2 separate regions of the Homo sapiens genome follow, and region 2 is linked to region 1. The links come from fine-mapping of genetic effects on gene expression. A gene starts in region 1. The other region holds a variant in brackets. All regions are shown on one strand. Distances are from middle to middle.

Region 1 (5,393 bases):
GCAACATTCCTTTTATTCTGTCCATATTTATGAGAGGGAGGGTACACGTGGCTCTTGCAGTGGTCTTAATCAAGCTTCTGTGAGTCACTGTGTTCTCGTGCTACTTGCATTCCACTCTTTCCCCTCACTCCTCCCCACCTCAGTTTGCTCATCTGTGTGTAAGTGGTTTGCATTGAATAGTGTTACGGATTCTTGCCAGTTCTATATGCTATGTATTTTTATTCTGTTACACTTTCTAAAACAAAAGATGCTTTTCTTCATAGTATCATCTTATGCAGTGTTCCCCACTATTCCATGGGGTAAAAAATTTTGACTACTCTCAAACTTCAATTGTCCCCTCTCTAATAGTAGTAGTCTTACCATTTATTGAAATACTTACTCTGCACCTAAGCATTTCATCTATATCATCTAGTAATCATCTTCATTTTACAGATGAGGAAACCGAGGCTCAGAAAGGTTAGGTAACTTGCTCAAGATTACTCAGCTAGTACGTGATAGAACTGGGATTCAAACCGGAGCCTATGCTCATAACAAAAATACTACACTGCTATTGCATTTATAAACAGGAAGATACACAGTTACTCACTGTGCAAAAGTAGGAACTTCACTTCTAAATTCAAACTAGATTTGCATGAGTACTGATTAATACATACCTGCTTACGGGCATGGCTTTGTTCCTCAGTAGGTATGTTCAGGGTGCTTTTGTAAAGGGTCCTAGCAATCAAGGAATAGTAGACAGAGATAATAGAGAGTGGAATAATGTAGAACACTAAGAAGCACAGCAGAGAATGTATTTCTTGCAAGAGCTTCTTAGAGACAGGATAAGAGGTACATGATTCAAATGTCATATTTTTATTGGGATCTCGAAAAGTGTATACATTTGAAAATATAGCCTCAGGTAGAGCAAATATCATAGACACGATCCAGACGCAGCCAGCTTTTACACAAGTCTTCAGGATGGCATTGGAGGGCTGTCGCTCAAGTGGCTTCACAACTGCCTTGTATCTAGAAACACATAATCAGAGGCAAAGGTCCAAATAAATGTCAAAGTTACCAAATTTTAGGGTGAGAAGTGACCTTAGTGGTCATCCAGTTCTACCCTCCGTGCATATGTGTATAACCAAGTCAACATTAACCAACTAGAATTGGCTATGGTTTTAAATGCACATAATACATCCCAATATTTTTATTTATGCTAATCTCCTTTTCCATTATTCACTCCTATGAGATATTCCAGATTTGCAATTTTATAATTTTATGTATAGACTCTCTATTTAGGACAAATAAACATTTATCAGCATGACTTTATGTGTGACTGAGAGTAATTCACCACCTGTGTATTACCTTAAGTGTAATACACTTAAGGTACCTAAAAGACTTCTTTTGTATAAGTGACTGATGTTAAACTGAATTAATTTTCCTTTCTTCATGAGTGAACAGTTATCAACCTTCCTAGAAGAGAATTCCAAGGGTTTATGTGGTAAAGAGGAGAGGATTAATTTCTTCCCCGTTTGTAAGTGTTAATTCGTTGCCCAACCTGATCAGTGGACAGATTTAGGGCGAGGCAAAGTTGCAATCAGAAGTCCTGTGCCGGTACAGAGATACCTCCTCATTCAAACAAATCCACCTTAAAATCTACAGTCATTAAGCCAGTCTGCCCTCAAATAGAATATAAGACCAGTCAAAGCAAAAATCATCAAAAGACACAGGGAAAGGTTTTCCTCCTCTCAGATTCTAGAATCTGAAGAAGTTATTCCTTCTGGTACTGCCAAACATCGATTACTTACAGGAATCTTGCAGGCTTTGTAAAGCATCATTTTTAACATTTGGAGCCTCAAATTTTTTCATGTTTTTACAGTTATTCTACAATAGGAACACAGAAAAACAGAGTACTTGGACTGAAAATATCCTAACACAGAATCTGAACACCCTGACTGCAAGAGGATCTCACACGCTCTCTCCACAGAGCTCTAAAAGTCAACCAAGATTAATTTATTTCTCTGGAAATGATAATGTCACTGAATGCCTACAGAGAAAACAAGTAGAATTACGTGATGACATTACACTAAGTTACCAGGGAGTTGAAAACCTCACCGTTTTTCTGCCATTAGCTAATTTGATGAATTTCAAATAAATTAGATGCCTGTGTCTTTTTACCACTCTTCCAATATACAGTTATACATATGTGGTCAATTTCACACCTATCCTGGTTTTCATGTTGACTATATTGCACCACTAGGCTGCACTAATGTATAAAGCATGAATTTTTTTCCTTTACACCTGGAACAATTTGCTTTACTTAATAAACTGGAGAAAAATAAAAACCCCGTTCAGTATACTTCCGAGCAAACAATAAGAATAAATTATCCATAAAGCATGCAATTTCAACTTCTCCTCCGTGCTAACACAGAAATTTTAACATTCTTACACTAACTTTTATTTTAAATGCCACCAGATTTTCCAATCTCACATCCACGTTACAGAGTGTGAGAAAAGCAGAATAGTAGCCAGTAAATGCTAAGTACAAGCTTTCCTTTCTTTTTGCCCAATTTCACATCCTGGCAAATATAATGGAGAAAAGAAACTCACCTGTCAGCGCTGAGAATTGTTAATGTGAACACTGACACACCAACAGAAGTGAGCCGGATGAAAGAGAGCACCTTACAACCAATTCTTCCGAACAGCCATCCTTCTGCAAGGTAGTGAGTTGCATCCACTGGCACACAAGTTAGCAGAAGTAAAAGATCTCCAAAAGCCAGGCTGGTGATGAAAATATTTGGAACTGTTTGCATGGATTTGGTCTTGAAAAAGACTTTGATGAGAATAGCATTTCCAAGGATGCCCACTGAAATGATCACAGCATAAGTAATATAGATGGCACACAATGCTTCTATTCCTGGAGAGTTGTCCCCGCTCCATCCTTTATTTGTGTTATCGTTAGAAACCACAGAGCTTGATGATTCTGTGTCATTTGTGATTGAAATTAAAGTCTGATTAGGTGAGTGAGGCTGCCTTTGAGCCATTTCTTCTGAAGACTGTGTCTTTAATATTTCTTCTTCTCAGTTCAAATGCAGTTGATTGTCACGTCCAATGCCTACGTCTAGTAACGAGATGGTATTAGGAGAACAGAACAGAACAGAATGGGAAGAAAATCCAAGACATCCAGATACTCCTTTGCTTCAGTTCTGTGTGTCTCCCAGCATGCTTGGCTAAATGCTTACCCATCTGGCACTGAAGAGTAGGAGGTGGAGTTTTATTGGCGTGTCCTGTCATAAGGAGAGGGAGGGGGCTGGGGAAATGCTCTGCAGTTGCTTATTCTTCCCTGTTGGGGAATCTTGGGACCAACTAGACCCTATTAAATCGTCTTATTTATTATTAGAATCACCCTGTTTTCATATCTACCCAGGATGGTCTATATAGGTTTTGTCAATTTTTTTTAAGAAAAAAACCATTTATCCCCCTGCAATCACATGGTAGTCTAGTGCATTTTGTTTTACATGATAAATAAGTGTAGGTGTCCCCTGAAGCACAACCTTGAACCCACTCCTCAAAATTTAATATCAGAGAGATGGTGAAGCAACAGATCATTTACACTTCGACAGGGTTTATGTCACCTCCAAGGAGTGATCATTCAGGTCACTTGGGCTTAATACCTAGCTCTGTCACGTGGTAAACCCCAACTTTGCAGTTATCCAGGCTGTGCTGTACACTATCAAAACAACCTTTTTAATTTTTTTTTTTTTTTTGAGATGGAGTCTCACTCTGTCACCCAGGCTGGAGTGCAGTGGCTCGATCTTGGCTCACTGCAACCTCCACCTCCTGGGTTCAAGCAATTCTCCTGCCTCAGTCTCCCGAGTAGCTGGGATTACAGGCGCCCGCCACCATGCCTGGCTAATTTTTGTATTTTTAGTAGAGACAGGGTTTCACCATGTTGGCCAGGCTGGTCTTGAACTCCTGACCTCAGGCAATCCGCCTGCCTCAGCCTCCCAAAGTGCTGGGATTACAGGCATGAGCCACCACACCCAGCCAAAACAACCTTTTAAGAGATGAAAAATCCAGGCACAGCACCAGTTGCTTTGTCTCTAAATGTCCTAATAAAACCACTTTTTACTGTTTGACTGTCTGTTTTAATGCCATGTTTTCTTTTAAGGGGCTGTTTAGGATTTTTCTCTCTAGAAATGGTTAAAGGGAACCTAACCTGCCTTATTCCAAAACAAAACAATACAGAACATCACTGCTCAAGCTCCTGACACAAAAGAACTTTTAAGAATGAAAATCATCATTTGCAGATGAAGAAATGAAATAGGTGACTCCAGGGATGATGGGCATGTAGATGATGTTTACATCAACTGAAAGAAGTACACATTTAAGGCAACCACCTCAGTACCAGCCAGAGAAGCTACTTTTTACAGAAAACATAACCATGTGCTTTATATGTATGTGTTTGTGGTGGGGGCACTGTTTGGGAGCAGGAAGCTAGCAGTTGGAGTGTAGTTACTAATTGAAGCTGCTAAGAAATATTCTCTGAAATTATCAAATGCAATGCATAATCTCTCAGCTAGAAACCATGTAGTGAGGTGTTCATAAATATAACCATATTAGAAAGTAGTCTGGGGAGCGAAGTGAAAAAGAGCAAAGTATTTGGCTAGCTAATGAACAGGGGGAACAACAAAGGTTGTTCTTTATACTTAGTAGGGGCAATCAGTTCTTCAGAGAAAGTGAAGTGGATGAATTGAATCAATTACCTCCTTAATTTCATGAAGGGTGGAAGACAGATGTGGTTTAAGTCCCCCAAACCACACCTATCCCCCACCCTTTATAAGTTATTGCCACAGCTTGAATCACTCAGCTAAATAACTGCCTTTGATGGGAATGGGGGTGCGGGGGAGTGTTTGCATAAACCCAAGTTCCTAAGCTTTCAGATATATACACTCTAGTAATTTCATACACTGGGCTGGTTCTTTAAGATTGTCTCTACAGAAAAGGGCTCCTTAAAGGGTTCACATCTTGTTCTCAGCAAACTAATGATAAAATCTCCCTGGGACTCCTGTGTATCATTTACCAAGGAGCAAACCATGTCTTCCAATTCACACCACAGCCGATCTCCACATGGCACTGTTTTGTAAGTTCTGTAATGCTTGCATGTGATTTCTGAGATTATCTGAATTCCCAGATCTCACTCATGCTTTCAGCAGGCTGCAGCCACTGGAATACTTTTTCTTCTCCCTCTTCCTTCTGATCAAGAGCGGTCAAGAGAGAGTAGTTGTATTGGAGTAGTACTGGAGCAGTGGGGGTCTTAGATCTCTAGAATTCCAGAATCCCAGAATATCAGAGATGGAAGTGACCCTAGACATGATCAAATCAAATGCTCTCATTTTGCAGAGGCAGAAATG
Region 2 (5,393 bases), 530 kb after region 1:
TCAGACTATATATACTCTTCTGTACCTTGCTTTTTTTGCTACCTGTGTTTTATGAGATCTTTCTGTATCAGTATATATAAAAATACCTCATTATTTTTAGCGGCTGTGTGGTATTCTAATGTTTGAATGTGTTACAAATGTTCAAACACTGATAGGCTCTTTAGGTTGTTTCCAATATTAAATCACATTGTGGTGAATATACTTGTACATATAATGAGTTTTTATTCTACAGTGTACCTAGCAATACAATTGCTGGATCAGAGGGTATTTTTTATTTTCAGTTCAGTAGTTACTGCCAAATTGTCCTCTAGAAATCTTTGCCCAGTATGCTTCCACATATAATGTATGAGAATGATTATTTACCAAACCCATGCCAATACTGGGTACTAAACTTTTGAAGTCTGATCATGTGAAAGTGAATAAATGGTATCTTGCGTTTTAATGAAGTTCTAATGCATTTTAATGAAGGTCTGGTACATTTTAATGAAGGAGATGGAACACATTTTCATGTTTATTGATTACTGATATTTCCTGTGAAATGTGTAGTCATGTTCTGTTTTCTATTAGGTGGTATGTGTTTTATTGATTTGTATGAGCTTTTTGTAAGCTAAGAAAATTGGTCCATTGTCATGTTTAATAATATTTTCCTAAGTTTTATTTATGTAGTTAAACTTAGTCTTTACAGCTTCTGAGATTTTGCCTTGCTTAGAAAGGCCACCTTTGCATTTAAGAATAAATTTAATGTATTTTTCCAGTATTTTAAAGGTTTTTTTTTCAACTTTTAAATCTTTGATTCATTTGGAATTTGTCTAGGTAGTAAGAGTGAGGAGAGGATTCAACATTTTTCTCTCCAATAGCAATCTATTCTAACCCCATTTATTAACTTTTTCAACACTGATTGGAAAAACCATCATCCTCATTCATACATCAAATTTCCATATGTCTGGTTAGATATGCTTCTGGGTTCTGTAGTCTGTTGCAAAAAATACGAGTCTTTTAATTATTTTAAATTGTTATATATTTTTGTCTTGGGTATTGCTAGTCCATACCTCATTTTTAGGAATTTTTTCTAGTTACTGCATGTTTATTTTTTTCAGATAAGCTTTCATATCATTTTGTCCAAATCTAAAATTATATTTTCCCTGAAATTTAATTTTGAAAAATTTCAAATCTACAGAAAATGTGAAAGAAAATAGGATGGACACCAGTATACTTTTCATTTAGGTTCACCATTTTTAACATTTTACCACTGTTGCTTTTGCTCTCTCCAGATGTGCTTTTCCTCCCCTCCTGATTCATTCGAGCTAAGTTGCAAACTTCATCATCACACTTCAGGACATCACTTAATATGTCAGCATGCCTTTCCTGCAAGAGGGAGGAGATTCTCCCATTTAACCACAATTCCATTATCACAGGTAAAAAAATGGATCAACCACCCAAAGTTTCATATTCATATTTCCCCATGTATCCCCTAAATAGCTTTTATAGCTGTCCCCACCAAGGTTCACAAATTACATTATTAGTGTGTCTCTGTAGTCTCTTTTCAAGTCTGTCTACCTCTTTTTTAAGCTGGTATTTTCTCTAGACAAACTTTATTTTCTTAGAACTGTTTTAGATTTATGGAGAAAATGGGAAGATAGTATAGAGAGTTCCCACATACTCCATACTCAATTTCCTCTATTAACATGTTAGCATGAGGCATTTGACACAATGAGCCAATGTCAATACATTATTATTAGTAGTAGTAGTATTGGTATTACTGGAATGCAATGGCGTGATCTCGGCCCACTGCAACCTCTGCCTCCCAGGTTCAAGCGATTCTCCTGCCTCAGCCACCCGAGTAGCTGGGAGTACAGGCATGCACCACCACGCCTGGTTAATTTTGTATTTTTAGTAGAGACGGGGTTTCTCTATGTTGGTCAGGTTGGTCTCAAACTCCTGACCTCAGGTGATCCACCTGTCTCGGCTTCCCAAAGTGCTGGGATTACAGGCGTGAGCCAACGTGCCTGGCCTAATACATTATTATTAACTAAAGTCCATACTTTATTCAGATTTCCTTTTTTTTTTTTGAGACAGAGTCTCTCTCTGTCACCCAGGCTGGAGTGCAGTGGCGCGATCTCGGCTCACTGCAAGCTCTGCCTCCCGGGTTCATGCCATCCTCCTGCCTCAGCCTCCCGAGTAGCTGGGACTACAGGTGCCCACCACCATGCCCGGCTAATTTTTTGTATTTTTAGTAGAGACGAGGTTTCACGGTGTTAGCCAGGATGTTCTCGATCTCCTGACCTCGTGATCCGCCCGCCTCGGCCTCTCAAAGGGCTGGGATTATAGGCGTGAGCCACCGCGTCCAGCCCCTTTGGTTTTACCTAGTATCCTTTTTGTGTTCTAGGATTCTATCAAGAGGACCACATTACGTTTAGTCATCATGTCTTGGCTCCTCTTGGCTGTGACAGTTTCTTAGACTTCCCTTGTTTTTGATGATCTTGACAGTTTTCAGGAGTGCTGGTCAGGT[A/G]TTTTGTAGAATCTTCCTCTACTGGGATTTGTTAGATGATTTTTCGGTTATTAAACTGGAGTTGTGTGTGTTTTTGGAGGAAGACCACTAAGGTAAAGTGCTATTCTTATCACATCATATCAAGGACACATTTATACTGCTGATGTTAATCTTGATCACCTGGCTGAGGTAGTGTTTGTCAGGTTTCCCCACTGTAAAGTACTGTTTTTTCCCCTTTCCATACTGTACTTTTTGGAAGGAAGTCACTCTGCACAGCCCACACATAAGGAGTGACATGTTATGCTCCACCTCCTTGAGGACAGAGTATCTACATAACTTATTTGGAATTCTTCTGCATGGGAGATATGCTTCTTCTCCCCCATTTATTCATTTATTTTTATGAGTTTGGACTCATACCTTGCTTTATCCTTTAATACTATATCTTGTTGAAATTGTTCCAGTTTCAGACATTGGTAGCTTTTTCAGTAAACTCCTGTGTCCCTTTGACATATTCCCATCGTTGTCATTGTGAGTTTTCTATTTTTTTTTTTTTATTTGAGTACTTCCTTCCTGGCACTACAAAGATGTTCCGGGCTTGTGTTGTATATTTCCTTCCTCAGTCCTGGAATCAGCCATTTCTCCAAGGAGCATGGTTCCTTTCATTGAAGAATGGTATTACAAACCAAGATCTGGCCACTAGGTTCGCTCATTGCTGCTTGACGTTTCATTGCCTCTAGGCCTTTTCAGCAGACAGATCAAGGAAATATATATGTGCATACTAACCTGTGCATTTATGCCTAAGTGTAAATATGTAACATCTGTATTTCCATTAAATGAAACATGAGTTCATACTGATGTTCAATCCATTACCACATAGATCATTCTAACCTCTTCCCTTTGCTTATCTGTAAACCTCCACTGCAACTGAGAAACCCGACTCCCACCATCGGCTCTCTTCTTGCTTCAACTGTTTAATTCCAGTATACATATAAACTGGCTTCAGAATTGTTAACCCTTTCCCCCACAAGAAACAACTTTATCAGCTAGAGCACAGTGATTATGTAGCTTTGTTGGTTGTTCATTTGTTGCCATTAGTTTCACAGGCTACTCATTTTGAAAGTTACTTAGGTCAGGACCTTTTCCCTCACCTCCTTTGGTGAGATTGTTTCATAAATTTGTGATAAACTTAGATTGTTTTGTAACATTCTACCTTCGATTTTGGTATTCTCCTGACCTCCCAAATGGTTTTTAAAAATGTGTGTACATTAAGGTTCACTTTTTGTTTCTGGAAGTTCAGTGGGTTATGATGGATTCATAATGTTAGGTATCCACAATTGTATTATCACATAGAATAGTTTCACAGCCATAAGAATCCCTGTGCTTCACATATTTATCCTTCCCTCCCCTTCTGCTGAGCCTGTGTTAACCACCGATCTTTTCAGTGTCTCTATAGTTTTGCCTTTTCAAGAATGTCATGTGGTTGGAATCATGCAGTATGTAGTCTTTTTAGACTGGCTTCTTTCACTTAGCAATATGCATTCAGGATTCCTCCATTTCTCTCAGAAGTTTGATAATTCATTTCTTCTTATCTCTGAATAATAGTTTTATTGTATGGATGTTCCCACACTTTGTTTATCCATTCACCTATTGAAGGACATCTTGGTTGCTGCCAGTCTTTGCTGGTTATGAATAAATCTTCCATAAACACTCACATGCAGGTTTTTGTGTGGACATGATTTTTCAAAGTGGTTGGGTGTAAATACCGAGGAGCAGAATTGCTGGGTCATATGATGAGATTATGTTCAGCTTTATAAGAAATTGCCAAGCTGAATGCGGTGGCTCATGCCTATAATCCCAGTACCTTGAAAGGCCAAGACGGGCGATCACTTGAGCCCAGAAGTTCGAGACCACCTGGGCAATATGGTGAAACCCTGTCTCTACACAAAATACAAAAAAATTAGCCAATCATGGTGGTGCATGTCTGTAGTCCCAGCTACTCAGGAGACTGAAGTGGGAGGATTGCTTGAGCCTGGGAGTTCCAGGCTGCAGTGACCCGTGTTCGCACCACTGCACTCCAGCCTGGATGGTAGAGTGAGACCCTGTCTCAAAAAATAAAATAAATAAAAAATAAAAAAATTGCCAAACTGCCATCCAAAGTGGCTGTACCATTTTGCATTCCTATCAGCAATGGACCATTTTGCATTCCTATCAGCAATGGATAAGAGTTCCTGTTGCTCCATGTCTTTGCCAGCAATTGGTATTGTCAGTTTTTGAATTTTAGTTATTAATAGGTGTGTAGTGCTATTTCTTTGTTTTAATTTGCAGTTCTTTAACAACAAATGATGTTAAGCATTGTATGTGCTTATCTGCCATCTGCATTTCTCCTGTGATGAGGTATCTGTTCAGGTCTTTTGCCCATTTTAAAACTGGTTTGTTTGCTTAATTGTTGAGTTGTAAGACTTCTTTGTATATTTTGAATACAAGTCCTTTACACGTGTGGGTTTTGCAAATATTTTCTCCCAGTCAGTGGCTTCTCTTTTCATTCTCATAACAGTGTCTATCACAGATAAATTTTGATTGTAGTAAAGATCAACTTATCAGGTTTCTCTTTCATGGATCATGCTTTTGGTGTTGAATTTAAAAGTTCACTTTCAAACCTAAGCTCATCTAGATATTCTCCTATGTTTCCATTCAAAGGTTTTGTAGGTTTTCATTTTACATTTAGATCTATAATCCATTTGAAATTAATTTTTGCAAAAGGTATAAATAAGATCTGTGTCTAGGTTCCTTTTTTTTTTTCATATGGACATCCGCTTGTCCTAGCACCATTTGTTGAGAAGACTGTGCTTTCTTCATTGCTTTGCTTTTGTTCCTTTGTCAAAAACCAATTGACTGCATATGTGTG

Direction of the effects. Alleles are on the strand shown, and positions count from the first base shown. SD is a standard deviation of normalised expression in the study named.
For the expression in breast of the gene that starts at base 3,191 in region 1, allele A in region 2 goes with a higher level than allele G (moderate effect, 0.66 SD a copy in GTEx).

The links.
Region 2: its variant is fine-mapped to the expression of BRS3 in breast (GTEx, PIP above 0.99).

Annotation. Positions count from the first base shown.
Region 1 is chrX:136,485,745-136,491,137 of GRCh38, reverse strand. It overlaps BRS3 (bombesin receptor subtype 3), which reads right to left and starts at 3,191. Exons shown (of 3, transcript NM_001727.2): 1 at 2,590-3,191; 2 at 654-1,005. The coding sequence starts at 3,023.
Region 2 is chrX:135,955,952-135,961,344 of GRCh38, reverse strand. It overlaps MMGT1 (membrane magnesium transporter 1), which reads left to right. Exons shown (of 4, transcript NM_173470.3): 4 at 1-757. Among named protein-coding and RNA genes, the nearest start is that of MMGT1, 15 kb to the left of the region's middle. The variant A/G (reference allele first, on the strand shown) is at 2,510.